Linked DNA regions of Homo sapiens. The protein of the gene in region 1 interacts with the protein of each later gene in a biochemical or structural test. Each region holds a gene or a part of one and is shown in the gene's direction. Other genes may lie near its edges.

What was found.
Region 2: the proteins of CDH1 (region 1) and CTNND1 form a complex in vitro, tested with the Homo sapiens proteins (5 studies listed by BioGRID and IntAct, with this or other methods).
Region 3: of the proteins of CDH1 (region 1) and CCNB1, one has a biochemical effect on the other in vitro, tested with the Homo sapiens proteins (3 studies listed by BioGRID).
Region 4: the proteins of CDH1 (region 1) and JUP form a complex in vitro, tested with the Homo sapiens proteins (2 studies listed by BioGRID).

What each region holds. Positions count from the first base shown.
Region 1 is NC_000016.10:68,810,292-68,817,457, forward strand, and holds part of CDH1 (cadherin-1 isoform 1 preproprotein), read left to right. Parts: coding exon 1-50; intron 51-1,392; coding exon 1,393-1,568; intron 1,569-1,843; coding exon 1,844-1,972; intron 1,973-3,021; coding exon 3,022-3,204; exon of another isoform or gene 3,205-3,271; intron 3,272-5,223; coding exon 5,224-5,468; intron 5,469-7,166.
Region 2 is NC_000011.10:57,813,251-57,820,588, forward strand, and holds the end of CTNND1 (catenin delta-1), read left to right. Parts: intron 1-1,060; coding exon 1,061-1,123; intron 1,124-2,143; coding exon 2,144-2,250; intron 2,251-2,664; coding exon 2,665-2,751; intron 2,752-3,046; coding exon 3,047-3,058; 3' UTR 3,059-6,290; downstream 6,291-7,338. UniProt on the Homo sapiens protein: Key regulator of cell-cell adhesion that associates with and regulates the cell adhesion properties of both C-, E- and N-cadherins, being critical for their surface stability.
Region 3 is NC_000005.10:69,162,206-69,170,149, forward strand, and holds the start of CCNB1 (G2/mitotic-specific cyclin-B1), read left to right. Parts: upstream 1-4,944; 5' UTR 4,945-5,057; coding exon 5,058-5,078; intron 5,079-5,702; coding exon 5,703-5,873; intron 5,874-5,967; coding exon 5,968-6,138; intron 6,139-7,944. UniProt on the Homo sapiens protein: Essential for the control of the cell cycle at the G2/M (mitosis) transition.
Region 4 is NC_000017.11:41,783,081-41,791,945, reverse strand, and holds the start of JUP (junction plakoglobin), read left to right. Parts: upstream 1-5,234; 5' UTR 5,235-5,358; exon of another isoform or gene 5,359-5,443; intron 5,444-5,838; exon of another isoform or gene 5,839-5,929; intron 5,930-5,969; exon of another isoform or gene 5,970-7,965; intron 7,966-8,865. UniProt on the Homo sapiens protein: Common junctional plaque protein. The membrane-associated plaques are architectural elements in an important strategic position to influence the arrangement and function of both the cytoskeleton and the cells within the tissue.

The sequences.
Region 1 (7,166 bases):
ATTCACCCAGGAGGTCTTTAAGGGGTCTGTCATGGAAGGTGCTCTTCCAGGTATATCCACTAATGAGAATCTGAATACTCAGAAAGACTCTTAGGTTCTTTGGACCCCAAAGTGTTGTCCAAGCCCAAAGGTTGTGTAACTAAAGCTGATCCTTCCTACGGACAGAACTTCTTGGCAAGCCATTGTTGTGTTATATGCATGTGTGTAACAGTCTACCTGTGGAAACATATAAAATAGGGAGAGTTTAAGAACAATCTTCCCTTTTTTATTATTAATTTTTTTTTTTTTTAGGCTGGGCATGGTGGCTCATGCCTGTAATCCCAGCACTTTGGGAGGCCAAGGTGGATGGGTCACCTGTGCTCAGGAGTTCAAGACCAGCCTGACCAACATGGTGAAACCTCGTCTCTATTAAAAATACAAAAAAATTAGCCGGTCGTGGTGGCGGGGGCCTGTAATCCCAGCTACTTGGGAGGCTGAGGCAGGAGAATTGCTTGAACCCGGGAGGCGGGGGTTGCAGTAAGCTGAGATCACGCCACTGCACTCCAGCCTGGGTGACAGATCCAGACTCCGTCTCAAAAAAAAAAAAATTTTTTTTTCAGAGACAGGGTCTTGCTTTGTTGTCCAGGCTACTTTCAAACTCCCGGGCCCAAGCAATCCTCCCACCTCAGCCCCACAAGCTGCTAAGATTATAGGCATGAGCTACTATACCTGGCTAAGAACAACCTTCCTAATTAAGGAACAGATCTTTACCAGTACCTTAAAGCCCTAAACAATCCCCCTTGGTCACATTCTTTTCTCTCCTCCATAAAGATAACCACACCCTAGGCTGGGTGTGGTGGTTCACACCTGTAACCCCAGCACTTTGGGAGGCCAAGGTGGGCAAATCACTTGAGGTCAGGAGTTTGAGACCAGCCTGACCAACATGGAGAAACCCTGTCTCTACTAAAAATAGAAAATTAGCTGGGCGTGGCGACGCATGCCTATAATTCCAGATACTTGGGAGGCTGAAGCAGGAGAATTGCTTGAACCCGGGAGACAGAGATTGTGGTGAGCCGAATCACGCCATTGCATTCCAGCCTGGGCAACAGGAGCAAAACTCCGTCTCAAAAAAAAAAAAAAAAAAAAAGATAACCACACCCTGACTTTTGTGGTAATCATTCCCTTTCTTTTCTTTATTACCATTTGTGTATTTATACCTGGATAATAAGTTGATAGTTTGAGCTTTCTTTCTCCCCTAGCACTTTGGTAAGAATTCTAGGAATTAGGGAACTCTGACACGGTACCACCCCCATGTCCCCTCCTTTATCCCTCAGGGCAGAATTGGATTAAGCAGTATTGACCCAGTCCCAAAGTGCAGCTTGTCTAAACCTTCATCTCCTTGAACTCTTCCAGGAACCTCTGTGATGGAGGTCACAGCCACAGACGCGGACGATGATGTGAACACCTACAATGCCGCCATCGCTTACACCATCCTCAGCCAAGATCCTGAGCTCCCTGACAAAAATATGTTCACCATTAACAGGAACACAGGAGTCATCAGTGTGGTCACCACTGGGCTGGACCGAGAGGTCAGGGGTCAGGAGGATCCAGAGGGTGTGGAGGACAAATGTGTATTAGCTCAATCCCGTGGACAAAGCAAAATCCTGCTAGGCCAGTTGTCAGTTAATACAGTGATGGTCTAAGCTTTGCATCTAAGCTTGTGCCCAGAGGTTCCGTGCCTAGAAGACAGGCAGGCTGGCATGAAGCACATGGTTAAATATTCTGGTTCCATGTGTTGGGCTGGGCTAGGCCAAAGGTGGCTAGTGTTCCTGGTCCTGACTTGGTTGTGTCGATCTCTCTGCAGAGTTTCCCTACGTATACCCTGGTGGTTCAAGCTGCTGACCTTCAAGGTGAGGGGTTAAGCACAACAGCAACAGCTGTGATCACAGTCACTGACACCAACGATAATCCTCCGATCTTCAATCCCACCACGGTAATTCTATAACTCCTTAGAGGGTTTCCAAAGAAAGGTCTTTTGTTGTTCATGAACTAAGTGTCACCACTGCTCATGGGCGAAGTCTTTGAAAACTCTCTCCAGACTAGAGAATGTTAACTTTAAACTTAAAAGCAAGCATCTTGAGATGGCAGTTGTCTTTTAGTATCTTTTTTCCACCCTTGGCCTGGGGCCAATTGGTGCAAGATTGTGAAGTTGCAAAAAGCACCTACTGATTTCATAGTCTCATGGTACATTTTTATAGCAAATATTACCTGGTTTCATTTCTTTATTGAACAAATATTTTCTAAGTTTATATTAGGCACTGTGTTAGACACTGGAGAGACCATCACACACAAAGATTCCATTCTCATGGTGTTTCTGGTATAGCCAGGAAGACATCTTATGAGAATTATTGTATGCCAAGGATATTACATGCATTCAAGGAGAAGGTATTGAGAACCAAGTAGGGTAAGTTTAAATCATCCTGTATAATGGCCAGGCGTGGTGGCTCACACCTGTAATCTAGCAAGTTGAGAGGCCAAGGCTGGTGGATCCCTTGAGGATGGAGTTTGAGACCAGCCTGGCCAACGTGGCGAAACTCCATCTCCACTAAAAATACAAAAATTAGCTGGGCGTGGTGGTGCATGCTTGTAATCCCAGCTACTCGGGCATCTGAGGCATGAGAGTTGCTTGAACCCAGGAGGCGGAGGCTGCAGTGAGCCGAGATTGTACCATTGCACCCCAGTGCGCCCATTGCCTGGCCTCTCCTTGTCACATCTTCTCCTTGAAGCTTGCTTTCAGTTAGCCAGGTGTGGTGGTGCATGCCTGTGGTCCCAGCTACTCTGGAGGCTGAGGTGGGAGGATTGCTTGAGCCCAGGAGGTTGAGGCTACAGTGAGCCATGATCGCTCAAATACACTCCAGCCTGGTGACAGTGAGATCTTATCTCAAAAGAACAACAAAAAAAGAGGAATCCTTTAGCCCCCTGAGACTCAGCTCTGCTAGCAGTCTTGGTACTTTGTAAATGACACATCTCTTTGCTCTGCAGTACAAGGGTCAGGTGCCTGAGAACGAGGCTAACGTCGTAATCACCACACTGAAAGTGACTGATGCTGATGCCCCCAATACCCCAGCGTGGGAGGCTGTATACACCATATTGAATGATGATGGTGGACAATTTGTCGTCACCACAAATCCAGTGAACAACGATGGCATTTTGAAAACAGCAAAGGTTTGTATGGTACCTGGCAAGATGCAGAAACTGGCATCCTCACAGCTGTTCATACCCTTGTCCCCTGGTATCTTCTTAGAAGTAGATTCGCTTTGGCAGGGGGACAGGGTGACTTTCCCAGATTGTAGTGGACCATGTGGGATTTGCAGTGGCTCTTCCTGCTCATGTAAGAAATCAAGAAACTGTGCTGTGTGTGGTGGCTCACGCCTGTAATCCCAGCACTTAGGGACGCTGAGGCAGGCAGATCACGAGGTCAGGAGTTTGAGTCTCTGCTAAAAATACAAAAATTAGCCAGGCATGGTGGCACGTGCCTGTAATCTCAGCTACTAGGGAGGCTGAGGCAGGAGAATTGCTTGAACCTGGGAGGTGGAGGTTGCAGTGAGCCAAGATCGTGCCATTGCACTCCAGCTCTGGGTGACAGAGCAAGACTCAGTCTCCAGGGGTGGGCGGGGAAAAGGAGGCCGGGCGTGGTGGCTCACGCCTGTAATCATAGCACTTTGGGAGGCCAAGGCGGGCAGATCACAAGGTCAAGAGATCGAGATCATCCTGACCAACATGGTGAAACCCCATCTCTACTAAAAATACAAAAATTAGCTGGGCATGGTGGTGTGCACCTATAGTCCCAGCTACTAGGGAGGCTGAGGCAGGAGAATCGCTTGAACCTAGGAGAGGGAGGTTGCAGTGAGCCAGGATCGTGCCACTGCACTCCAGCCCGGCAACAGAGTGAGACTTCGTCTCAAAAAAAGGAAATCAAGAAGCTAAGGCTTCTTGGTGGCTCATGGTGGCTCATGCCTGCAATCCCAGCACTTTGGGAGGCCGAGGCGGGCAGATCACCTGAGGTCGGGAGTTTGGGACCAGCCTGGCCAACATGGTGAAAACCTGTCTCTACCAAAAATACAAAAATTAACTGGGCGTGGTGGTGCACACTTGTAATCCCTGCTGCTTGGGAGGCTGAAGCAGGAGAATCGCTTGAGCCTGGAAGACAGAGGTTGTAGTGAGCCAAGATCGTGCTACTGCACCCTGGCCTGGGCAACAGAGTGAGACTCTGTCTGAAAAAAAAAAGAAATCAAGAAGCTGTTACACAGGATCCTGAAATTGAAAAAGAAGTACTATCTGCTTTAATAGGCTCTTTCCCAGAAACATTCTCCTTCCCTCAGCTCTTTCCATTTTGCGGTGACAGAGAAAATGATTTACTGGTCTCTGCTCTTGTGCTGGTTTATTTTAGAAGTGGGGCAGATATGGTTGTTTTTGAAAAATGTCCTAGAAACTTGAAAACTAGCCAAGCGCAGTAGTGTATGGCGGTGGGCCCAACTACTTGGGAGGCTGAGGTGGGAGAATCACTTGAGCCCAGGGGGTTGAAGCTGCACTCAGCTATGATCATGCCACTGTACTCCAACCTGGGCAATAGAATGAGACTCCATCTCTTAAAAAAAAAAAAAAAAAAAGATGGCCGGGTGCAGTTGCTGATGTCTGTAATCCCAACACTTTGGGAGGCCAAGGCGGGTGGATCACCTGAGGTCAGGAGTTCGAGACCAGCCTGGCCAACATGGTGAAACGTCGTCTCTACTAAAAATACAAAAAATTAGCCAGGTGTGGTGGCGGGCTCCTGTAATCCCAGCTACTAGGGAGGCTGAGGCAGGAGAATTGCTTGAACCCAGGAGGTGGAGGTTGCAGTGAGCCATTGCATTCCAGCCTGGGTGACAAGAGCAAAAATTCTGTCTCAGAAAAAAATAAAATAAGGAAAGAAACTTGAAAACTAAGAATTTGAGTGAATTGCTTGTTGAAGTGACTGGATCCCTAGAATAGCCCCAGCTTTGCCTTCCTCTTGAGTAGGTGAGCAGATTTGAGAAGCCATGGTAAGTAATTGTGGTTTCTGCCATTGAAAGTCATGGCAGAAACCACAGTTACTTTTGCACCAACCTAATATATTACCAAAAGCAACAGTTAAGGATTTAATTTTATTTTTACTAACACAAAATGTTTCGTTTTGTTTTTAACTTCATTGTTTCTGCTCTCTAGGGCTTGGATTTTGAGGCCAAGCAGCAGTACATTCTACACGTAGCAGTGACGAATGTGGTACCTTTTGAGGTCTCTCTCACCACCTCCACAGCCACCGTCACCGTGGATGTGCTGGATGTGAATGAAGCCCCCATCTTTGTGCCTCCTGAAAAGAGAGTGGAAGTGTCCGAGGACTTTGGCGTGGGCCAGGAAATCACATCCTACACTGCCCAGGAGCCAGACACATTTATGGAACAGAAAATAACGTAAGTGTGAGGATTTTTCAACTGACTTGCAGCAACTGGTTATTTTATATCATTTTATATGTAAATCAATAATATGTACTTCATGGCATTTTGTCATTTGTCTGTACAAGACCATTCTCTTAATTTATTTTTTATTCCCTTTATCTGTGCTCCTTTCACCTGTTCCCTTCCCTTCACAGACAGCCGTTCTTGGTCTGATGTGCTGCCTCTCTTTGAGCTCTTGTAGTATGGTAGAAATGCAATTTTACTTTGCATACATACTATTGTGTTTTTTTGAGTTTGGAGTCTCACTTTGTCGCCCAGGCTAGCGTGCAGTGGCGTGATCTCTGCCTACTGCAGCCTCTGTCTCTTGGGTTCAAGCAATTTTCATGCCTCAGCCTTCCATGTAGCCAGGATTACAGGTGCCTGCCACCACGCCCGGCTAATTTTTGTATTTTTAGTAGAGACAAGGCTTCACCACATTGGCCAGGCTGGTCTCGAACTTCTGACCTCAAGTGATCTGCCTGCCTCCTAAAGTGCTGGGATTACAGGCGTGAGCCACCGCACCCAGCCCATAGTATTGTGTTCTAAGTAGCTTACTATCAGTATTTCTCCTTTCAAACTTGAAGGTACCTCTATAATGTAAATCACACAGATGCTGAGAACTGAGAACCCACATGCCAACCAACCAACTACAACACTTGCTTTAAAATACTCTCATTTTGGGTTGGGCATAGCAGCTCATGCCTGTAATCCCAAAACTTAGGGAGGCCTAGGCAGGTGGATCACTTTGAGGCCAGGTGTTGAAGACCAGTCTGGCCAACATGGTGAAACCCCTGCCTCCACTAAAAACACAAGAAATTAGCTGGGCATGGTGGTACACACCTGTAATCCCAGCTACTCGGGAGGCTGAGGCACGAGAATCACTTGAACCCAAAAAGCTGAGGTTGCAGTGAGCTGAGATCGAGTCACTGCACTCCAGCCTGGGTGACAGAGTGAGACTCCATCTCAAAAACAAAAAACAAAAAAACTCTCATTTTCTATGTGTAGCCAATGGACTCCTCATAATCTAGAGATATTTCTACATGCTCCAAACTGTAAGGCCTGGCAAGATGGGTTTTAATCGAAGTTTAAAAGAATGATGAAAAGTCAAAGACAATAATGTAGGATTAGGTTCAGTGATGAAACCCTGGATTGTACAGTTTCCAGGCTGGGTTGAAAGCTTGCAGTAGTGAAATAGATAGTTCAAAGCATCTCCTGGGGCAGATTCAGGGACCAGGTCTTTAGTGTCTGTTTCCAGAGGCCCTTACGCCTGGAACAATGACCACTTGATGTAATTCATTGCTTTGCACTTCCAAAGAAGTGAGGCCAAGCCCACAGTTTCTTAGAGCCCTTTCCTCCTTTGATTTCTTAGTTTCTCTTTCAGAGCCTTTCCATGACCCTAGTAAATAACTGAGCAGTAGATCTCTGTTAGCCTCCCTGTACCTCCCATTAAATGGCAATAGTGCAGTCCACCCACAGGTCAACAGGGCAACCTGCATCTCCAGATGTTCATGACAGGAGAGGAGGTGGCATGTTGCCACCATTTAGGAACTACTGTATTGTTTGGGGGAGCTGGTCTGCAGGAGTCTGCTTTTAAAAATAAATAAGGATTATAGTAATCATTGCTTCAGCAAGAATCATCCACAGATGCCAAATCCATTGGGTGAAAATTAGTTG
Region 2 (7,338 bases), on another chromosome or scaffold:
GGTGGTCAAGGCTGCAGTGAGCTGTGATTGTGCTACTGCATTCCAGCCTGGGCAACAGAGCAAGACCCTGTCTCAAAAAATACATGATTAAAATGAAAAAAGACTTTTCTAATGAAATAAACAGTGATGTTAACGAATGTGATTTCAAAATATTGTGTAATGCTATGTGTTAGCATTTTGAATATCTGGATAACTTGAAGCAGTATTTTGCAAGTGACAAATACATATGTCAAAATCGTACATAGGTAATTGATCCGTTAAAAGTGCAAGATGGACCAATGGATTTTAACTAAACAGAATATGAAGTGATTGTTAATTATAGATTCCACATTACTGTCAACCTTTAAGAAACTACTACTAATTAGTATACTATTAAAGAAGAATAACCACAATTATCTGAAAAGACTATTAAAATCATCCTCTTTTCCAACTTTTTATCTGTGTGAGGCTGGATTTTCTTGATATACATTAACTACAATAACATATCACAAAAGATTGAATGCAGAAGCAGGTATGAGAATCTAAGCCAAATTTCAAAGAGATATACAAAAATGAAAAGGATGTTATTAAAGATTATTTATGATAACATGTAAGAAGTTTACCATTAAGTGAAATAGATACTTTAAACTTGTCAGTATGGTAACAATTAATACATAAAACTCACACCAATGAAGGTTCTTTAGATCCTTATAATTTTTAAGACTGTAAAACGGCCTTGAGACCAAATAATTTGAAAACTGCTAGTTTAGATGGAATTGTTTTTTGATTTAAGAGTCTGTAGGGGCCAGGTGTGATGGCTCACACCTGTAATCCCAGTACTTTGGGAGACTGAGGTGGGAGAATCACTTGAGCCCAGGAGTTTCAGACCAGCCTGAGCAACATAGTGAGACCTCATCTCTACAAAAAGCTTAAAAATTATCCAGGCATTGTGATGCACATAGTTGGTGCTAAGTAGAAGTGTGAATGAAGGGAAGGAAGGAGGACCAGAGAGCAATTTTCATGATGTGTACAGATTTTGAAGAATTGTTTTTGACATGGATAACTTTCTGACTTCATACAGATAAGAAACCTGATCGGGAAGAAATTCAGATGAGCAATATGGGATCAAACACAAAATCACTAGGTAGGTGATTAATTCCTGCCTAAGGATGTGGAGTAATATTTCACTGGCTAAGGAGAGCTGTCTAGCTCTATAGTTTTTTTTCTAATACCCTTACCATTTACCATCCTGGGAGAGCATTGGCTGATCATTTCCATTTTGAAGGATGTAAGGAAATTTAATAAAATCTGATCCGTCTACTTTTTCTACATTCCTACATGCTCAAAGGTTTTCAGAAATCTTTCTATGCCTCTCCTATTACTACACATTCAAGTTTGTAGCCCATTATATTCCTACCCCAGTCTCCTTCTCTGGAGTGAATGGATACATCTGTTTCTGCCCAACTATTCTGCTTGCTATTCTATCTATTCACTCTATAGTTTGATTCTGCTCATGTAATACCTCTTACTGGTATGTCCTTCCCTTTTGTCTTTCTAAATTCTCTTTATCTCCAAAGGCTTAACTCAAGTCCTGTTTTCCCTTGTCAGGTCCTTCCTAACGATTGCAGCATATTTCACTCGCTCTTCTTTTAATTCCCATAACCTTTTCAGACAAACCTCTTGTTTAGCTTTATTATGTCATATTCTGGGTATTTTATACATATTGTCTTCCATCTTAGATTCAAGTTCTTTTTTTGAGACAGAGTCTCACTCGTTCACCTGGGCTGGAGTGCAGTGGCGTGATTCTCATACCTCAGCCTCCCGAGTAGCTGGGACTACAAGTGTACACCATCACACCTGGCTTATTCTTATATTTTTAGTAGAGATGGGGTTTCACCATGTTGGCTAGGCTGATCTTGAACTCCTGGCCTTAAGTGATCTGCCCGTCTCAGCTTCCCAAAGTGCTGGGATTACAGGCATGAGCCACCACGGTCAGCCAGATTCAAGTTCTTTAAGTCGGGGACCATCAGACTTTAATGCCTTTGTGGAGCATTTGACAAGCTCAGTTCCCAACAGTGATGCCTAATTACACCTATCTGTTTGATATACGTTTTACACTAGAGGGGAATGTCATATTTCTGTGTACTTTTTTTTTTTTAACCAGATAACAACTATTCCACACCAAATGAGAGAGGAGACCACAATAGAACACTGGATCGATCGGGGGATCTAGGCGACATGGAGCCATTGAAGGGAACAACACCCTTGATGGTAAATTCTCTTTATATACTGCTATCTGTCTAAGGCTAGTTCTATTTTGAAGCCTATGTGTTTTGTGAAACACAAAAAAAAGTACAGAGAAAGATCGCATCCTTTTCTGGTAGGGGTTTTCAGGAAAAAGTAAGAGTTCTGACTCATGTTGGGATTTCTTGGGCCGTTATTCTGCAGTGGTCAAAATGGGGGAAGCATGTCTGTAAAAGTGTTACTGATATGACTAACACTAACTGATCTACTTTCAAACATTACCTTTTTCCTCTCCCTCCCTGTTTATGAATGTTTTGCCCTTCTCTTACTATTATATCTTGTTTTGTTTGAGTTTACAAATTTTCAGAGTTTCCCTAGCTCTGGCACACACTCATGAGGTTCCTGTCTCTACTCATACTAACAAATTGCATGTGTTCACAGCAGGACGAGGGGCAGGAATCTCTGGAGGAAGAGTTGGATGTGTTGGTTTTGGATGATGAGGGGGGCCAAGTGTCTTACCCCTCCATGGTATGTCCTTCAGTCACCCCCAAGATTGTTCTTGAGGAAGGAGGCTCCTGAGTGCCAGCAACTTGTCAATCACGCTAATCTGATCAGGCCAGAGACTAAGTAGTCTCAGCCACATGGGGCTCGAGGGGTTCTGCTTTTGTGATTATTACCTCTTACGAGTCTGGGACATGCAGCTGGTGATCTGATTCTCCGTTATGTGCTGCTTTCCTTTCTCCAGATTTGCTCAACTTTTTTGGGGGGGGTCTCCTTAATCCCAACCCCATTAACATTCTCTCTTTCTCTTTTTTCTCCACAGCAGAAGATTTAGCACCACTATCTCCGTTCCATCTGGGCTTATATGTACTTTTATTTTTTGGTGGTGAAATTGACTGATGATTTTCCTTTTTCTTCGCTGGACTATTGTGCCAACTGCCAGGCTGCCTCCTGCCCTTACAGCCCTAAGTGGCTGCCTTCTTTCCATCAACTCCCAACTTCTTCCTGTGAAGTTTAATTGTCTCAACGCCTCCCCCTCCCCCATTCCCTCCATTTTTCTCCCAAGAAACCTGACTCAATTATTTGCATATTTTGAGAAACTGCTGCAGATTAGTTCTTTTTGCCAGTTTTCCCTGGAACTCCTGGCCTTTTGTGGAGGGGAGGGATGGAGAGAATAGGAATCTTCACTAGAAGCCGTGGGAAGAATTGGAAGTTACATGCTGTATATGCAATGTCCAGCAGTCTGATAAACTGACGATTCTTAATCAAGATTTTTTTCCTGATGGGGAAGGGACTTTTATTTTCTTTTAGAGAGGGGAAAGTGTGAGCTCTTCCCTTATTCCTAATGGCTATTTTTGAAGCAAAGAAGGCCAGCAACATTGGCACATGCCACCTGGCAAAGGACCCTTGAGTAAGTGAAGGTCTCCTAAAACTGGGATTAAGAAACCTTGCTCTCCTCATCTCCAAGGCAGGGACCATCAAGAACCTACAGACTCCATCTCTTCTGCAAGCCTCATGCCAACCCTGGGCTATTGCTGCTGCCCCTTAAACACAGGCTGTCCTTAACCCACCTCTCCTGCCCTGTGATATGTCTGCTGAGTTGGCCTGGCCATTTCCAAGAGGCTGTAGAAAGGGGAGAATGTCAAGGAAGACTTTTGGTAGAGAAGGAGCAGAAAGATGTGTTTTTGGGAAGAAGAAGACCTCTAGGAGGAGCTAGTAGGAATGTACATGAAGCAATTAGTCTGAAACTGGCTTCCCCACTCCCCCGTTTCTCCTTTTCCTATCCTTATAGGCCTGTCCCTTGCCTCTGCCCTGGATTGGTTGGCAAACTAAAGGACTTGATGTACATAACTCCTGTCCCTTTTCCCTTACAAGGTGGGGATTGCCCCTGGCTTTGCCTCTTCTTTGTGCCTTTGGCCTGGGGTGCATCTCCTCCCGCCCTTCCATGTGCCTTTCTTTGCCTCTGCAGTCTCATTTCTCATAATTTTGCAAATTATATTTTGTTGCTTTCTTACCTACTATTGGCCCTAAATAGCAGAAAGAAGAGAAGTGACCGAGAGAACCTCAGATTCTTCATTGAGGATTGGTATAGCCATGATTTCAGTCATAGCAAGCTTTTGCTCAACAGCATATGGGTGGGATTTTGCAAAAATCCTATTCTGATGAATCTCAAAGTAAGGCTGGTAAGAGAAGTGAGTGGTGTGACTCTTACTCCTTAGGTGCCCAGAATTTACCATCATCTCTGAAGGAGTTACAGGGAAGTGGTCTCCCCAATTCTCCCCTCCCTCCAGTATTGCCCCCTCTCACTTTAGCATATATTAATTAGCAGGTTGGGCTAGAGAAATCAGCTGCTATGCGGGTTGATTATTATTATTATTTCTAATCCTTTTCCTTATTTGCCTTCTACTCCCCTTAATCTAATCTAAAAGCTCTGTTCCATGCAACTGGAGTTCCTTATCCCTCTCTTCCCCTTCCCTTATATATTGAGGCTATGGGGTAGGAGAAAAGTGCACAACCCACCACCCCCTTTACTCGTGCATTAAAATTTCTTATTTACCCTTTTCCCCCTTCCCATTTCTTCCCACTTTCATCTACCTTTTCTGGCAAAAAGGAGCCTTTTGCTCTCTGTGACCCTAAGAGCACACTGCACAGGGAAAATTGCCCCATCCAGACCTGGCTCCACTCTTGATCTCTCTTGTCCTCTTCTGCTCTTTTCCTGGTGCTCTTTTTTCTCGGTGGGGTGTGGGTAATAGAACAGCCGTGGGCTTTTGGGGACCTTTAACTTTTTTTTCTCTCTTTTGTTTATAAAAAACACTAAACATTCAATTCCAGAGAACCAAAAATCCCACCTTCCCACCGAACACTACTAAGGGGCTTGTGTTCTGCTCCATACCTTTTCTCTTTTCTTTCTGTCTTGTTAATGCTTTTAAAAACAAATGAGTTTTTTATATAAATAAAGTTTTTAAAGTGTGTATGTGGGGGGTCTGTGTCATTTCTTCACTTCAAGCTGTTATTTCTTCCCTGCTTTGCATCTTTGTTACTTCCTTATGTATCAGTGTCCTTTCCAGAGCAACCAGAAGGAGGTTATACCAGGATTTATTTTGAGCTCAGCCCCAACTCTTTATCAAGCAACATTCTTGTTAACTATATGTGAAACATTTTTTCTTCTGAAGATTCTTAAAAATTGAATGTGGCTGAAGTTGAACATGGGAGCTTATTGCTAATTTAGAGATAGGAAACTGAAGCATAAAGAATTAATGACTTACTTTAATTACTGGAATTCTTCTGCAACATTTGACAAAACTAACCTTGAATAAGGCCCACTGTAATACGTAGCTCTCTTAAATATAACACTTAGGACTAGAAGATTAGAAACTACCAATCCCAACTACGTAATAGGAAAATGTAGGATCAAAAGGCCCATGTATATAAGTACTGACCACTGGGCCATAATGTTGCTTCTCAGGCTATATGCAGTCCTTTAGTCAGAAGTCAATAGGCCTATTTATTAATATTTTACAGACCATATTACCTGGATTACCAGGGACTATCTTTGCTGCAGAGATCAAGGGTTAAGATCTATGGGAAGATACTTATTTTTCTGAGGTCCTTATGTCCTGTCATATAATTAAAGACTCAAGAGAATTTATGTGAAATGCTTTCTGTATGCCCAAATCTTTAGATTAAAATTATATAGCTGCTCCTGATGATGGTCCTGTCTTGTTTTATTGAACTAGGACTTGGGTATGAAAACTTTCATGGGCTAGTGAGACCAGGAAATCAACTAGCTTTTAAAGCTTGATTTGTGTCTAACAATTGTAGTGTTAGATTAGAGGTTGAAGTACAAAGCCAAAAAGCTATTAAGAGTTTACTTTCCAAAGAGTTTTGATAGCCCTGCTTGAGATGATTTTTATCTAAATAGAAAAGCCTGGCTGCTTGTCAGCAACACTTTATTTCCCTGTTATGTTCTTATCCTTTGGCATTGAGCTAGATACAAACCCTACTCTTCTCTCTTCCTTCTGGATTGGTCCATTTGTTTATCTCATTCAATAAATATTTGCCAAGCACCTCCTATATGCTAAGCGTTGTGTCAAGGTTAGGTTTAGATTAGAGAGTGAAACAGATGGATCTTTTCTCATAGATTGCAATCCATGAGAATCCTCTATAGCTAAGATCTATGATCAGACGAGATCGTGTGCGTTCAGGGTGATATGGCCATAGACAAGATCTATGATCTTAAAAACACTTCTCTCTGTGCCATATCTAAATACAATGAGATGTTACACAGAATGATGTGTAAAGGCCCTATCTCACAAGTTTCTTGACACTGATGTACTTTGTGACAGAGGTCAAAGCTGGGACCTCACTTGGCCACTTTTTTTTTTTTAGACAGAGTCTTGCTCTGTCACTCAGGGGCACAATCTCGGCTCACTGCAACCTCAGCCTCCTGGGTTCAAGCGATTCTTCTGCCTCAGCCTCCCGAGTAGCTGGGATTACAGGTGTGTACCACCACGCCTGGCTAATTTTGTATTTTTAGTAGAGACAGGATTTCACCATGTTGGCCAGGCTGGTCTCAAACTCCTGACCTCAAGTGATCCACCCTTCTTGGCCTCCCAAAGTGCTGGCATTACAGGTGTGAGGCACTGCGCATGGCCGGCCACTTGTTTTTCTTGCTGAACTAATTTTCTTTGCTACAAACTGGAATCACCTCACCCAGGAAGAACTAAGAACCAGTCTTTCCATATCATTTTTTTCTCATTTTGTCTATTTTTATATCTGAAGCAAAGGTTCTTAATATTTTCATAGATGGAATTGACTAGACCTAGCCCTGTATATCTGAGCAAGTTACATAAGAATTCCCTGTATGCTTGTTGAAAATGCAGAGTCCCATGTTCCATTTCCAAAAATCGATTCAGTAGGTGGGACTGAGGAATCTAAAATCATGGTAAGTCATCCAGGTTATCCTCTTTTTTTTTGTTTTTGTTTTTGTTTTTTTTTTTGAGACGGAATTTCACTCTTGTCACCCGGGCTGGAGTGCAATGCCACGATCTCAGCTCAGTGCAACCTCTGCCTCCCGGATTAAAGCGATTCTCCTGCCTCAGCCTCTTGATGAGC
Region 3 (7,944 bases), on another chromosome or scaffold:
ATGTCCTTTGCAGGGACATGGATGAAGCTGTAAACTATCATTCTCAGCAAATTATCACATGGACGGAAAACCAAACACCACACGGTCTCACTCATAGGTGGGAATTGAACCATGAGAACACTTGGACGCAGGGTGGGGAACATCACACACCAGGGCCTGTCAGTGGGGTTGGAGGGCTGAAGGAGGGATAGCATTAGGAGAAACACCTAATGTAAATGACGAGTTGATGGGTGCAGCAAACCAACATGGCACATGCATACCTATGTAACAAACCTACACATTATGCACATGTACCCTAGAACTTAAAGTATAATACAAAAATTTTAAAATTTTAAAAAAAGATCACAGTGAATGGGTACAAAAGTACTATTAGATAGAAGGAATAAGATCTAGTGTTCCGTAGCCTAGATCTGGCCTAGGGTGACTATAGTTAACAATAATTTATTGTATATATTTATATATTTCCTTTTTTTTTTTTTTTTTGAGAAACAGTCCGCTCTGTCGCCCAGGCTGGAATGCAGTGACGCGATCTCAAATCACTGCAACCTCCGCCTCCCAGGTTCAAGTGATTCTCCTGCCTTAGACTCCTGAGTAGCAGGAATTACAGGCTTGTGCCACCATGCCTGGCTAATTTTTGTATATTTTGTAGAGATGGGGTTTCGCCATGTTGGCCAGGCTGGTCTCGAACTCCTAAGCTCAAGCAATCCCTGAGCTCAAGCAATCCTTGAGCTCCTTACAGGCATGAGCCACCATGCTCGGCCTTTTTTAATTTTTTTTTGAGACAAGGTCTTGCTCTGTCACCCCGGTTGGAGTGCAGTAGTGCAATCACAGCTCACTCAGCCTCAACCTCTCAGACTCAAGCGATCCTCCCACCTCAGCCTCCTGAGTAACTAGGACTAGAGGTATACACCACCAATCCCAGCTAATTTTTGTATTTTTTGTAGAGATGGGGTTTGCCAGGTTGCCCGGGCTGATCTCGGACCCCTGGGCTCAAATGATACTCCTGCTTTGGCCTCCCAAAGTGCTGGGATTATAGGCATGAGCCACCATACCCAGTCTGTATATTTCCAAATAACTAAAGGAGTGGAGTTGGAACGTTTCCAACACAAATAAATGATAAATGTTTGAGGAGATAAATATCCCAATTACTCTGATTTGATCATTACACATTGCATGCTTGTATCAAAATATAACATGTACCCCATAAATATGTACAACTATTATGTATGCATAAAAATTAAAAATAAACATGACAAAATGTACTATTAAGAATATTAGTCCAAAAAACAAATAAAAACAACAAAAGAAGAAAAAAAGAAATAATTAAAAAAAATAAAAAGAAGAATATTAGTCTGAGGCCAGGTGCGGTGGCTCTGGTGAACCCAGAGATTAAGGCTGCAGTAAGCCATGTTTGCGCCCCTGCACCCTAGCTGGGTAATAGAGACACTGTCTCAAAACAAAAATAAAACTGGGCAAAGGCTGGGCAAAGTGGCTCATGCCTATAATATTCCCAGTGCGGCCGGGCGTGGTGGCTCATGCCTGTAATCCCAGCACTTTGGGAGGCCAAGGCGGGCAAATCACAAGGTCAGGAGTTTGAGACCAGCCTGGCCAATATTATGAAACCCGGTCTCTACTAAAAATACAAAAATTAGCTGGTGTGGTGGTGGGCGCCTGTAGTGCCAGCTACTCGGGAGGCTGAGGCAGGAGAATCACTTGAACTCGGGAGGCAGAGGTTGCAGTGAGCCGAGATCGAGCCACTGCACTCTAGCCTGGGCGACAGAGCAAGACTCCATCTCAAAAAAAAAAAAAAAAAAAAAAAAAATATATATATATATATATATATATATATATTCCCAGTGCTTTGTGAGGCCAAGAGTTTAAGATGAGCCTTGGAAACATAGTGAGATCCCATCTCTACAAAAAATAAAAAATAAAAAAATTAGCTGGGCACAGTGGCTCACACCTACAGTCCTAGCTACTTGGGAAGCTGAGGCAGAATTGCCCGAGCTCAGGAGTTTGAGGTTACAGTGAGCTATGATCACACCAGTGCACTCCAGCCTGGGTAACATAGTAAGACCCTATCTCAAAAAACAAAACAAAACAAAAACTAGGCAAAATACCTGAACAGATACCTCAACAGAGAAGTTATACAGATTATAATCACAGAAAAAGATACTCAATATCATATGTCATTAGAGAACTGCAAATCAAAAAACAATGAGTTACCACTACACACCTAATAGGATGGCTACAATTTTTTTAAAAACTGACAACACCAAATGCTTGTGAGGATTGCTGATGGGAATGCAAAATGGTAGAGCAGCTTTGGAAGACAGTTTGGCGGTTTCTTACAAAAGTAAACATACTATATGATCCAACAGTCTTGCTCCTTGGTATTCACCCAAATGAGTTTAAAACTTATGTCCACTCAGCCGGGCACAGTGGCTCACGCCTGTAATCCCAGCACTTTGGGAGGCCGAGGAGGGTGGATCACGAGGTCAGGAGATCGAGACCATCCTGGCTAACATGGTGAAACCTCGTCTGTACTAAAAATACAAAAAATTAGCCAGGCCTGGTGGCGGGCGCCTATAGTCCCAGCTACTTGGGAGGCTGAGGCAGGAGAATGGCGTGAACCCGGGAGGCGGAGCTTGCAGTGAGCCTAGATGGCGCCACCGCACTCCAGCCTGGGCAACAAAGCAAGACTCCGTCTCAAAAAACAAACAAACAAACGAAAAACAAAAACAACTTACGTCCACTCAAAAATCTGCACACAGATGTTAGTAGCAGTTATATTCATACCAAAACTTGGACGCAATCAAGATGTCACTTAGTAGGTGACTGAATAAATAAACTAGTACATCCAGACAATGCAATATTATTCAGGGCTAAAATAAAATGAGATCCCAACCCATGAAAAAAACATGGAAGAACCTTAAATGCATATTTGAGTAAAAGAAACCATTCTGACCGCCAGGTGCAGTGGCTCACGCCTTCAATACCAGCACTTTGGGAGGTTGAGGCGGGTGGACATTATACGTCATTATATATTTGTCAAAACCCGTAGAAGACACAACACCTAGAGTGAACCTTAATGTAAACTATGGACTTTGGGTAATACTGTGGTGTCAATGTAGGTTAACAGATTATAATTAAAGTACAACTTTAATGTGGGGTGTCAATAGTGGGGAAGGCAGGTGAAATGCTCTATACTTTCTGCTAAGTTTTGCTGCGAACCTAAAACTGCTCTAAAAAATAAAGCATATAAAAGGAAAAATTTGGCCGGGCGTGGTGGCTCACGCCTGTAATCGCAGCACTTTGGGAGGCCGAGGCGGGCGGATCACCAAGTCAGGAGATCGAGACCATCCTGGCTAACATGGTGAAACCCCGTCTCTACCAAAAATACAAAAAATTAGCCGGCCGTTGTGGCGGGCGCCTGCCGTCCCAGCTACTCGGGAGGCTGAGGCAGGAGAATGGAGTGAACCCTGGAGGTGGAGGTTGCAGTGAGTCGAGATCGCACCACTGCACTCCAGCCTGGGCGACAGATCGAGACTCCGTCTCAAAAAAAAGTAAAAAAAAAAATTTTTAAACTGGAACACAGAGGATAAGTAATCCTGCTTCGCCCCTTGCCTCTCGCCCCTGCATGGGGCGAGGAAGGATTGATCAAACCCAGAAAGACTGAGTGAGAATGGATGTTGAACACAGAACTGAAGGATGAATGGGAGTTACCTGAATAGAACCCAGGGGCTTGAATGCAAGAAGAGGCGGGCATTCCAGGCAGAGGAGAGCAAGGGTAAGGGCCCCACGGGAGGCATTCGAGTAGGAGGGTGAACTATGATGACAGAAGACTCAATAACGATCCAAAGAAACCAAATGATTGGGCGCCTTCTTTCGGATCCGTGACTTCCAGCGCCAGGAGTCTCTATTGGCTCTTATACCGTTGCTCTATGGGATAGCAATGTTTTTGTCCTTCAGCCTCCCCTCCAATTGCTGAGCTGCTGGTGTGTTTTGAGGAGTAGAAGGCAAAAAGAACCCTCTTGTTTTTCTTTGGATCTAGAGAGAATCTGAGCAAATGACAAAGCAAATGGGGTAAAATGTCTTTTTGTTTAGTTTTTCCTGATTTTCCCATGAGAGGCAAATACATGTTAAGGATAGTTGAATCTGAGTAAAGGGCATAGAAATATTCCTTACAAGATTTTTGTTGGCAACTGGTCTAAGTATGAAATTATTTCCAAATAGAAAGCTAAAACAAACAAAACAATTGGCCTTGGGAAACTGGACAATCTTGAAGTAATCAAGTAATATTGTTAAGGGACAATCAGTGTTGTGAAAACAACACGGATACACCCCCTCCCTCCCCCTCAAAAAAAAAAACCCTAAATTCAGTTCCCCCGTTGCTAATGTGTGACCCTGGCAAAGTCATCTAAGTCGCTGAGCTTCAGTTCCTCCAACCCAGAGAGTTGTTGCAACGATCAAATGAAAGAATGTCTATTAAAGCCTTTCATGAACTATATTATTGCTGCTACCGTAGAAATGGAAAGTGTGCAACACTAGATCCAAAACTACTTTTGACACTTCTGAGACTGTGGCCGCGCCTCTGTCACCTTCCAAAGGCCACTAGGCCTTTCCTGAGCTGGCATTGGCAACGCACACTCTTGCCCGGCTAACCTTTCCAGGTGGGCGGCGCACTGGCTTCACTGCTCTCCAGGTGGCCGCTGCAGCTGCCCGAGAGCGCAGGCGCAGAGGCAGACCACGTGAGAGCCTGGCCAGGCCTTCCGGCCTAGCCTCACTGTGGCCCCGCCCCTCTCGAACGCCTTCGCGCGATCGCCCTGGAAACGCATTCTCTGCGACCGGCAGCCGCCAATGGGAAGGGAGTGAGTGCCACGAACAGGCCAATAAGGAGGGAGCAGTGCGGGGTTTAAATCTGAGGCTAGGCTGGCTCTTCTCGGCGTGCTGCGGCGGAACGGCTGTTGGTTTCTGCTGGGTGTAGGTCCTTGGCTGGTCGGGCCTCCGGTGTTCTGCTTCTCCCCGCTGAGCTGCTGCCTGGTGAAGAGGAAGCCATGGCGCTCCGAGTCACCAGGGTGAGCCGCTTCGGACTGCGAACTAACGCGGCCTTCTTAGCTGCTGCCTGCTCTCCCTGCCTCGCCTGCGGGAGCCTCCCGAGCGGGAGAGGGCCGCAGGAGCGATTTGGGGAGGAAGGTGGGAGGGGACTCACCAAGAGAGCGCCGAGGTGGGCCCAGGCCTGGTGAGAGAGTGTGGGGGACGATGGATGGAGGGAGGAAGGTGAGAAAGAGAACTGGACGGATATTGGATAAATGTTTTGGGGAGGTGGAGAGTCGACTGGGAACCTTTTGAAAAAGTGATAGAGGGTCCCTGAGTGGGCCCGCCAGCAACTCTGTAACCCCCTTCCCAGAGAGAAGGTGTCTGCAATTGGAGGCTTTTTCGGTTTCCTTTCAAATGTAAATTCTCGGTATTTTAGGGCTGGCCAGGACTAATCAGGGAATCCCTCAATTGGTAAATGTAGAGGTCGGCGGAAACTGACTTGTCACGGCCGCAGAGTAGACTCTGGGACCCATGTTTTCCCTCGGAACCCATTTTTAGTCGGCTTTCTTTCTGGGAACTTCTCCTTGTGCCCCACCTTAATTAACCCTTGACTTACTCGAGCCTTCGTGGATCAGCTCTTAAAGTGGTCTTGCTTCTTTCAGAACTCGAAAATTAATGCTGAAAATAAGGCGAAGATCAACATGGCAGGCGCAAAGCGCGTTCCTACGGCCCCTGCTGCAACCTCCAAGCCCGGACTGAGGCCAAGAACAGCTCTTGGGGACATTGGTAACAAAGTCAGTGAACAACTGCAGGCCAAAATGCCTATGAAGAAGGTAACTCTCTTCCTGACCTAACTTCTGTAAGAGCCCGCCTTCCAACTGTGGCCTTTGATGCAGAAACATTTCATTCTCTCTGTTTCATCTACAGGAAGCAAAACCTTCAGCTACTGGAAAAGTCATTGATAAAAAACTACCAAAACCTCTTGAAAAGGTACCTATGCTGGTGCCAGTGCCAGTGTCTGAGCCAGTGCCAGAGCCAGAACCTGAGCCAGAACCTGAGCCTGTTAAAGAAGAAAAACTTTCGCCTGAGCCTATTTTGGTAAACTTATTCTTACCATTGTAGAGTCTGTTGATTATTTCTTGTCCCTTATTTCACTGATACATGCAAGAGCATTCAAATGAATAGTAATATTAATACCATTTATTGAGTGCTTAGCATGAGGCAAGCTCTGCCTAACATTTTACATGCATTAACTCACATAATCTTTACACGTACTCTCTGAGGTATTGTCACCTCTACTATTTAAATCATGGCTTTAGAGAGGTTATGTCAGGGTCACACAGGTAAGTGGCCCATATGGGATTCAAGCTCAGGCTGTCTGGCTTCAGAATCTATGCTTTTAATTGTCAACTGTCTTATATTCCTTCGTTAATGATATTAAGTAGTAGCTGTCTGAGCCAAAGGCTTTGTTATCCAACTACAAGCCATCTCTGCAGAATTTATTGGCGTAAACATAGAATGTTCTCTTGAATTTTTTTACTGCTGCATATGGCTACTAAATAATAAGCCTGTAACATTGGAATATGCAAAGGAGTAAAACAGGAAGAAGGCAACTTTTCAGGGAGTGGTTAAGAAGATGAATTAACACTTAGCCTCAAAAATAATAACTTTTTATTAAATATAAGGTATGTAAATGTATTCTATGATAGACCTACCTGTGAAGGAAAGGTAGGTCATGTAGAGGAGGCTGCTTTGATGAAATTGCAATGAACTGTATTCTGAAGCTCTGTTTTTTTAAACTTAGTTAAAACCAGTTGGGAAAATTATCTGAAAAAAACTTGTTGAGACAGAGTCTGGCTCTGTTGCCCAGGCTGGAGTGCAGTGGCGTGATCTTGGCTCACTGCAACCTCTGCCTCCCAGGTTCAAGCAATTTTCCTGCCTCAGCCTCCCTAGTAGCTGGGATTACAGACGCACGCCACCACGCCCAGCTAATTTTCATATTTTTAGTATAGATGGGGTTTCACCATGTTAGTGTACTCCTGACCTCATGATCCGCCCGCCTCGGCCTCCGAAAGTGCTGGGATTACAGGCGTTAGCCACGGCGCCCAGCCAGTTCAGCTTCTTATATCTAAGGATAAGAGATTGAAAGCTATTGCTTTAGTGTTGAATTTCTGGGCATAGCACATGAAATATGTAGCCAGCACAGTCTTTGGGCATATCAAACTACGTGAGGCTTTCTTGGAAGGCCCATACTGATTCTTACCTTTGCTTTCCCACTTAGTAAGAATGCCTTCCCCACCCTGTCTTTCATTTAGCTAATAACCTTTTCATCCTTGAAAACAGCTCAAGCATCAACTCCTGAAGCTTTCCCAAACTTCCCCCATCTCCACCCCCTGTTCCTAGAATCAGTCTTTTTTTTCCCTTTGAGACAGAGTCTCACTCTGTTGCCCAGACTGGAGTGCAGTGGTGCCATCTTGGCTCACCACAACCTCTGCCTCCCGAGTTCAGTGATTCTCCTGCTTCAGCCTCCCAAGTAGCTGGGGCTACAGGCACATGCCACCATGCTTGGCTAATTTTTGTATTTTTAGTAGAGACGGGGTTTCACTATGTTGGCCAGGCTGGTCTCGAACTCTTGATCTCGTGATCCACCCGCCTCAGCCTCCCAAAGTGCTGGGATTACAGGTGTGAGCCACCATGCCCAGCCTTAGTCTTATTTTTGTTTATTTTTTTTTTCCCAAGACAGAGTCTTGCTCTGTCACCCAGGCTGGAGCACAATGGCACGATCTTGGCTCACTGCAACCTCTACCTCCTGGGTTCAAGCAATTCTCTTGCCTCAGCCTCCTGAGTAGCTGGGATTACAGGTGCCAGCCACCACACCCAGCTAATTTTTTTATTATTTTTTTA
Region 4 (8,865 bases), on another chromosome or scaffold:
CTGGAAAGTAGGGTCAGTGTTGGGCAGGAATTCCAGAGTTTCTGGTGCTGGTCCCTGGAGTGTGGTCTAGAAGGAATGTGAAGTCCATGTAGGCTCCTCTGTCCCTTTGCCCCTGTGTGGAGGGGGCAACCCCAGGAGGGCCAGAGTGGAGGCCTTTTAAAGGCCAGGATCGGCCAGGCATGGTGGTTCAGGCCTGTAATTCCAGCACTTTGGGAGGCCGAGACAGGCGGATGACGAGGTCAGGAGATCGAGACCATCCTGGCTAACACTGTGAAACCCCGTCTCTACTGAGAAAAAAAAAAACAAAAAATTAGCCAGGCATGGTGGCACGTGCCTGTAGTCCCGGCTACTCAGGAGGCTGAGGCAGAAGAATCACTTGAACCCGGGAGGCGGAGGTTGCAGTGAGCTGAGATCGCACCACTGCACTCCAGCCTGGGTGACAGAGTGAGACTCCAAAAACAAAAAACAAAAAACAAAAAACAGGCCAGGACCTGGAGAGAAACTGGGTGTAAAGATGGCTCTGGCCAGGTGTGGTGGCTCACACCTGTAATCCCCACACTTTGGGAGGCTGAGGTGGGAGGATCACTTGAAGCCAGGAGCTCCAGACCAACCTGGGCAACATGGTGAGACCTCATCTCTACCAAAAAAAAGAAAAAAAATTAGCTGGGTGTGGTAGCGGCTGTGGTCAGCTACTCAGGAGGCTGAGGCTAGGGGATCCCTTGAGCCCAGGAGGTTGAGGCTGCAGTGAGCTGTGATTTCGCCACTGCACTCCAGTTCTGGCAGCAGAGTGAGACCCTGTCTCTGAGAAAAAAAAAAAAAAAAAAAAAAGGCTGGCTTTGTCCCTGGGCTGAGAGATGGCTCATACCCAAGGTGCCTCTAGCTTTCTGCATTGCCTTTCTTTCAAGTCTGCCATCCGGGAAGAACCTCCCGTTGTGTGATTTCCTTTTCTGCTGCTGCAAAGCGCGGGGAAGAGGCTACTGGGTGATGAAAATGTACCATCATCAGCCTGAAGTTTGGCAACCCAGCTGGTCACCCTGGGCTCCCCTTTATAGAAGTGGTTATGTCTTAGGCTACCTGAGGCTGAAGAGGCAGGAAGAAGGGTGTGTGTGTGTGTGTGTGTGTGTGTGTGTGTGTGTGCGCGCGCGTGTATTAGAGAAAGCTGGTGTTTGTGTATCTGAATCTGCACCCGCAAGTGTATATCCCTGAGGTGTGAGCATAGAAGGTTGTGTGTGTGTGTGTGTGTGTGGCTTGTGTACGTCTAAATTTCTACCTGTCTCTGGGGAAAAGGCCCCCATAGAATAAGGACTGTGGGTTTTTTTTCTTTTTTTTTACTTTTGAGCTGGAGTTTCGCACTTGTTGCCCAGGCTGGAGTGCAATGGCACGATTTCTGCTCACTGCAACCTCTGCCTCCCGGGTTCAAGCGATTCTCCTGCCTCAGCCTCCTGAGTAGCTGGGATTACAGGTGTGTGCCACCACGCCCAGCTAATTTTTTGTATTTTTAGTAGAGATGGGGTTTCTCTGTGTTGGTCAGGCTGGTCTCGAACTTCCGACCTTGGATGATCCACCCGCCTCGGCCTCCCAAAGTGCTGGGATTACAGGCATGAGCCACTGTGCCCGGCCCTAAGGACTGTGTTTGAATGGAGAACAGAAACTCTTCCATCTCCTTGTATGGCCCAGAGGCCTCGTGGAAGATGAGGGGGGTTGTGAGATAAGGAGAGGACGGTGGCCTGGTGGTCCTGGACACTGGCTGATGGTGTGCACCCTCCCCTAGAAAAGAGCCTCCCTCCCACCAGTCCCTCACTGAACCTCTCTGCGCCAGTTACTTCTGTCTCTGCAGCAGCTTGAGATGGGCCATGTGGTACCCTTATATTCTCTACTCTGAAGCACTAGCAAGCTGCAAGGTTGAGTTACCCATATGTGTTTTTGGCAGCCCATGGACTCTGCTTCCACTGAGCCCTGGGCAAGAGGAAGGAATTGAAACTGCAGGAATAGGAATTGAGGCTGGACATTAGAACAAGGAGACAGGGGCATTCACCATAAGGGAGGCTGCAGGATCTTCTTTCCTGGACATTTGTCAGAGAATTCTTGCCTTTAAAGGTTTGCAGGCAGGGGACTGGATAAGATGACCTTGCGGCCTTTTCTTCAAGTTCAAGCTACAGGGGAGACTGTGGTCACAGAAACCCCCATCCTATCCCTACATACCTCCTTTCACAAGAGACCAAATTGCCTGTGCAGACAGCTGAGTCTAGGAAACATCATTTCTGATTCTATTCTGTATTCTCAGATACAGATGAATCTCAGTGCCTGCCAGGCACATAGTAGGTGCTTAAAGAGAATCCCTTGATCTGGGAGGAGAGACTCAGCTCTAATCCCAGTCTTTGCCGCTGCTGTGGTGGTGCTTCCACCAGTCCCAGCCTGTGTGTTTAGCTCTGGGGCTGGTGTTATGCAACATGTTCCATGCTAAGACACGCAGGGGGCATTCTGGGGAGACACACACACACACACACACACACACACACACACACGGTTTATTCTGAAACCTTATTTCTGCTCCTCCACCCACATGGGCTCCTCCACCCCTCTCTGCAGTCAACCAGCCCTACCCTGCCTCTTTGCTGAGGTCAGGAGAAATAGGAAGGAGTCAGGCCAGGCTTGGAGCTGGGACGTATGTGTGTGTGCATGTGTGGAGGTGGGAGGTGGGCAGAAGGGGGAAGAAATGAAACCCTGGCAGCTGCAGCAGTCCAGGATTGTGAGCCCATTCCTTCCCCAGCTGTGGCCTGGCTACAGCTCTATGTGACAGGGTGACAAGCAGGTGGATGGGGCAGGGGTAAGGCAGGGATAAAGATAGGGAGGTAAGCTGGAGGATGGAGAGTTGAGGAAACAGGCAAAGGGCGGTGGCCCTGGTTATGGGATGGCCACTAGTTCAGGGATGTCCGTATCTCCCTGGCCCTGCTTTTGGATGGCGCAACTTCAGAAGGGAGAATGTTCAGCTACCATTCTTTTCTCTGGTGGGGAAAGTGGTCAAGGTTGCTGCTAAGGTACCTTCATCCAGCCCATCCTGTGTGCTAGCTTTGGGGCTGTAGAGCTTTGTTGATGGGGGACCCTTTTCTAAACCACCACTCCTCCAAAACCCACCCACACACGCTGCTTCTGCTTATCCTTCTATGAGCTCTTTGAAGGTTGGGATCATTTTTATTTCCTGTGTCACCAGGTTTTATTTTCTGTGTTCACCAGTGCCTAACATACAGTTGACAATGAATACTCAAGTGTTGAATGAAGGAATGTTTGTAGGGCCCTTGGCACACCATACAGCCACGAGCAGCATTCATGTCATCAACCACAGAAAGGAAGTGCCCTTGTCTTCTTAAGCTGCCTGTGAGAAGTCCTTTTTATTTTTTTGAGACAGAGTCTCACTCTGTCACCCAGGCTGGAGTGCAATGGCATGATCTCAGCTCACTGCAACCTCTGCCTCCCGGGTTCACGCCATTCTCCTGCCTCAGCCTCCCGAGTAGCTGGCATTACAGGTGCCCGCTGCCATGCCTGGCTAATTTCTGTATTTTCAGTAGAGATGGGGTTTCACCATGTCGGCCAGGCTGGTCTCGAACTCCTGACCTCAAGTGATCTGCCCACCTTGGCCTCCCAAATTGCTGGGATTACAGGCATGAGCCACCACGCCTGGCCGAGAAGTTCTCTCTGATCTCTACCCCAGGCTCTCCTATCGCAGAGGGGTGTGCTGCCCGGTTTATTTTTTTCTTTTCTTTTTTTTTTTTTTGTTTGAGATGGAGTCTCGCTCTGTCATGCCCAGGCTGGAGTGCAGTGACATGGTCTCGGCTCACTGCAACCTCCGCCTCCCAGGTTCAAGCAATTCTCCTGCCTCAGTCTCCCAGGCAGCTGGGATTATAGTTGCCCGCCACCACGCTCGGCTAACTTTTTGTATTTTTTGTAGAGATGGGGCTTCACCATATTGGCCAGGCTGGTGTTGAACTCCCGACCTCAGGTGATCCACCCGCCTTTGCCTCCCAAAATGCTGAGATTACAGGAGTGAGCCACTGCGCCTGGCCTGCCCCGTTTCTTTCATGCCAGGGCTGGATTTCCTTCAGATCTGCTGCTTGATGTTTCCAAGCCCACCAAAGCCTCCTGACACCAATACTGTATTTTTGTGCCAATTAATTGTTCTGTCTCTCCTCCAAGTGTTTGTGCCTTTTCTCTGCCCCTTCCCCATTGCCTTGACATTTTATGTCTATGCTCCTCTTCCATGAGGGGAACAGCTGGTTTGATGGTCCTTCAAATGAGAGGAAGGAGGTTCTAGCTTGGGGTGTGCCACTTTGTAGTTTTGTGACTTCTCTGAACTTCGGTTTCTTCATCTTTACAATGAGGGTCGTTTTCTCATCCTAACTATTTTTCAGAGCTGTCACAATAATTAAAAAAAAACATACCGTTAATTTAAATTTCTAACCTTTAGCAGTTTCTGAGTGCTTTCACAAACCTGACCTCATTTAATCCCCACATACTCCAGTGAGGTAGATATGGCTAATGTATCCAGTTTACAGAAGAGGAGAAACAGGGTGAAGTAACTTGCCTAAAATCATACCAAGTGGGAGAAGACCAAACCTGGCCTTCTAATTCTAAATCCCAGGAGTACTCCATCTTTCGGGAAAAAAATCCCACCCCAGCACAAAGCCTATGAAATGCTATACAAATATGTGATTACTACTTTGGGGCAAGGATGAATAAGCCCAAAGAAGCATCATGCCTGACGCTGAGTTGGCTGGCCGGTGAAGGCGTCTGTCCCTTCCCTTGGTATCCCTATGACTTACCTGTTGGACAGGTAGGGGGAAGGGGAGAGTAATGAGTCTCACCTGCTCAGAGCAAGGGTGGGGCAAGACACACCCCATCCCTTCCATTGGTTTTTTCCTTAGTCTTACTGACAGAGCCTTGTCCAATCAGGAGGAAGTAACTTTCTATCTGCCAATAGATGCAATGTTAGGATGAGACCTCAAGTTAGAGTCCATCCCTAGAGCCGACTGGCAGTCCCCGGGGCCAATGGCAAGCGGATAAACAGAGGCGGCCGTGGAAGAGGACTGGAGGCGAGGCTCCGCCCCTCCACGGGACAGTCAGGCGAGATAGCCAGTGAGCTCGCACCAGAGGGTGGGCGTCTCCCCCAGGGGCGGAGCTTCGAGGTGGCGAGGGGCGTGGCTTGGCTGTCAGGTCTCTTCGCCTTTTGTTCGGTTACTGAGTTGCTGCCTTGGCCAGAGTCCGGAGCAGCCGCCGCCCGACCACGCCGAGCTCAGTTCGCTGTCCGCGCCGGCTCCCACCCCGGCCCGACCCCGACCCGGCCCGGTCAGGCCCCATACTCAGGTGCGGGCTATCGGGGGCGCAGGTATCGTTGGGGACAGAGGGGTGGCGAGCGGCCGCGGGGCCGGTCCCAGCCGTCCCTGGGCAGGTGAGGGCCGGTGCCATCGAGCGCCACCCTGCACCGGCGGCAGGGGGCGCGCTGGGGTCCTGGGCGCGGCGACTTGGGGGTCGCGCGGTTCGGGCCGAGCGCGCCTCGGAGCTCCGCGAACCAGAGATCTGAGCAAGGCGGGGAGGGATCCGGACAGGTGCCTCCGGGGTCGCGCCTCCCCCGGGGCCCGCGCAGCTCGCCCGACGCCGCGTCCCTGACTCTCGCCCTGGGCTGGCGGGGGAGACTTTGCTCTGCTTCGACTGCGTCCCAGGGCTCACGCTGCAGTCAGGAATTTACCGTTTGGGGAACTTGCTGCCGCTGGTCTCTTTGGGGCCACCCTCACCCCACCCCACGCGTCATCCTCGCTTTCCCTCCCTCCCTACTCCCCCAGGCCTGGGTGGGGCCCTATTGTTTGCGCCCAGCTTGCCCAACTGTGGGGGCCGAGCGCACATTTTCCCAGCGACTCTGGCCCCACCTGCCGAGCAGGTGAGCGCACGGAGTCCAGAGGCCCTGCCCTCCAGCTCCCAGAGCCTCGTCGATACTACCTGCGGCGCCTCCCTCCACGCCGGTGGGAGCCCGGCTCTGGCTTCTTCAGCGGAGGTGGGATGGAGTGACTGGGGGGTGCAGGGCTCGGCTCAGTGTCCAGCTGGTGTCTGGCACCCGTGGCTCGCCCTGGGGTCTGGGGGGTGGGGTCTGTGCACGGATGAAGAATTCAGGGTCACCTGGCCCAGTTTCCAGTAGCTGTGGCTGCCAGAGTGTTGGTAGGGGAACAGGACCCGTCTTCTCTAACCTCTTATTGTTGGAAAAAATCACCCAAAACAAACTTTGCAGGAGGAAGTATTCACAGCAGCTTTATCTGGGGGTTTTCCCGTCTCCTTGCCCAAAACTTCCTTTAGGCTTAGGGGGTCCTTCCTGGTGCAAAACCCCTTCCCCCAGCCGGCCCCTGGCTGAACCTGGGCCGGTGCCTGGGCTCCGACCCTGTCTTCCCTGCCCCCACATTCATCCTGTTCGCTGGGCCCCAGGGGCCTGAGGTAGGGGCCGGGGTGGGGGGTGGAAAGTGCTGAGAGGGGAAGCAGCTTCTTCCTTCTCTTCCTGCCTCCTGGGACCACCACACCCCCTCAGACAAGGCCTGCGTAAGTGGTTGTCTCTCAAGCTCTGCCCCCTCCCCAGGAATGGGGGTGGGGCAGGGCTGGGCCAAACTGAGGAAGGTGGGGGGAGTGGTTGTTCTTGTCTTTTTTTTTTTGCCTCTACCCCATCCCCCACATTACTTAGCTGGCTGGTTATTGAGGCAGAAGCGCATGAGGCTGTGGGACTTGCCTTCCATTTGATTTCTGAATTGTGAAGGTGCATGCTTTCTGGAGGCCTGCACAGACCTTTCCCACCCGCTTTCCTGAAAGAATTTGACAGGGAAAGTGAGACCGCAGGAAGGCTTTTTGGGGGAAGGTTTCTTCAATGCTAGACTCTCTCAGGCAGAGCTGCATCGGGCCCCCTGCCTTCCCTGCTCCCAATTTCCTGAGACCGCCCCCCCCCACCCAGAATTGGGGATCTTGATCAGGGTTTGTACCCCGGTTTAAAAAAAAAATCTGAAATGTGGTCTTTTTGCAGGATTTGGAGCCCAGCCTCGTTGGGGAACAGAGAGAGAATACAACAGTTGGGTTCTCTCTCAGTCCTGGGGGTGGGAGAAAGATTGTGGGGGGCGGGGATCGAGAGTGCTTGGAGGGGAAGAGTCTACCACCTCTTTCTTTGTTGTAGATGGGGGAGTGAGGCTGGGGGCCCAGACTCAGCCCCTTTATCCTGGGTGGGGATCACGCTCAGCCCTGTGCTAGGGGGAAGTCAGTGTGGGAACTCAGATCCTTTTCTGCCGGGGGATGGGATTCTGCACCTCTGGGGAGCAACAGGAGCAGGGAGTTTGGGCAAAAATAACCTGCTTTCCCTCTTCTCTGTGCCAAGGTGGAGGAGGGGAGGGCATTGTAATTATGTTGGCTACATGATTAGTTTAGCTAATCTGGTTTGTGGCTGTGATGAAAAGATAATACTGAGGAAGTACTGCTAGGAGGTGCTTGGTGAAAACTGGCCACTGACTGGACTGGGGGATGCGGGGGAGGAGGAGAAGGTAGGACCCAGTTAGTCATTTCTTGCTAGATCAAGCCCCAGCTTGGGTGACTTGAGCCCTCCCACCCCCACTCCACCCCTCCCTTGCACCCTGGCTCCACCCCATTCCCTCTGGAGCCTCTGTTTGGGCTGCCAGGGCCGAGGCTTTGAGAATGCAGTGCATAGGAACGAAAAAGGTCGGGCTAGGGCTGCCAACCTTTTTCCCATCCTGGAGCCACCTTAGAGTGAGATGGGTCAATTGACTAGTCTACAGAAGGACTGTTTATTTGGAGAGATGGGACAGTGGGGCAGTTCTGAGCACAGGGCTTTGGGCTTGAACTGAGCTGGGTTTGAGACCCAGCTCTGTCTCTCATTACCTGAGCCTCAGTGACCTCTTTGGCAAAATGGGAATACTAATACCTATCTACCCAGTAAGTACTTGACAAACGGTAACTCAAGATCAAGGTAAGACTTTACAGAAACCAAGCACTTTCTTTTTTTTTTTTTTTTTTTTTTTTGAGATGGAGTCTCGCTCTGTCACCCAGGCTCACTGCAACCTCCGCCTCCTGGGTTCAAGTGATTCTCCTGCCTCAGCCTCCTGAGTAGCCAGGATTACAGGCGTGTGCCACCACCCCCGGCTGATTTTTGTATTTTTAGTAGAGACAGGGTTTCACCATGTTGCGCAGGCTGGTCTTGATCTCCTGACCTCGTGATTCGCCCGCCCCGGCCTCCCAAAGTGCTGGGATTACAGGCGTGAGCCACCTCACCTGGCCCAAACCAAGCACTTTCATTAACTATTTTTACTTAATCCTTATGGCTGGCCAGGCTGGATGGCTCAGACCTGCAATCCCAGCACGTTAGGAGGCCCAGAAGGGTGGACTGCTTGATTGAGCCCAGGAGTTCCAGACCAGCCTGGGCAACATGGAGAAACCCTGTCTCTACAAAAAAATAGAAAAATTAGCCGGGCGTGGTGGTGCATGCCTGTGGTCCCAGCTACTGGGAATGTTGAGGTGGGAGGATTACCTGAGCCCAGGGAAGTCAAGGCTGCAGTGAGCTGTGTCACTGTATTCCAGCCTGGGCAACAGAGTGAGTCCCTGACTCAAAAAAAAAAAAAAAACAAAAAAAACGCGTATCATTATTCGCATTCTACAGAGGAGGAAATTGAAACTCAAGGAACTTAAGTAATTTCCCCAATGTTGTACAGCGAGACCCAAGCAGCACCAAGACTGACGTTTGGGTCCTCTGATTCCAAGCCCAGAACCCATCCTGCTGTATTGCCCCATGCAGCTCTGGAAAGGATTTTTTTTTTTTTTTTGAGATGGAGTCACGCT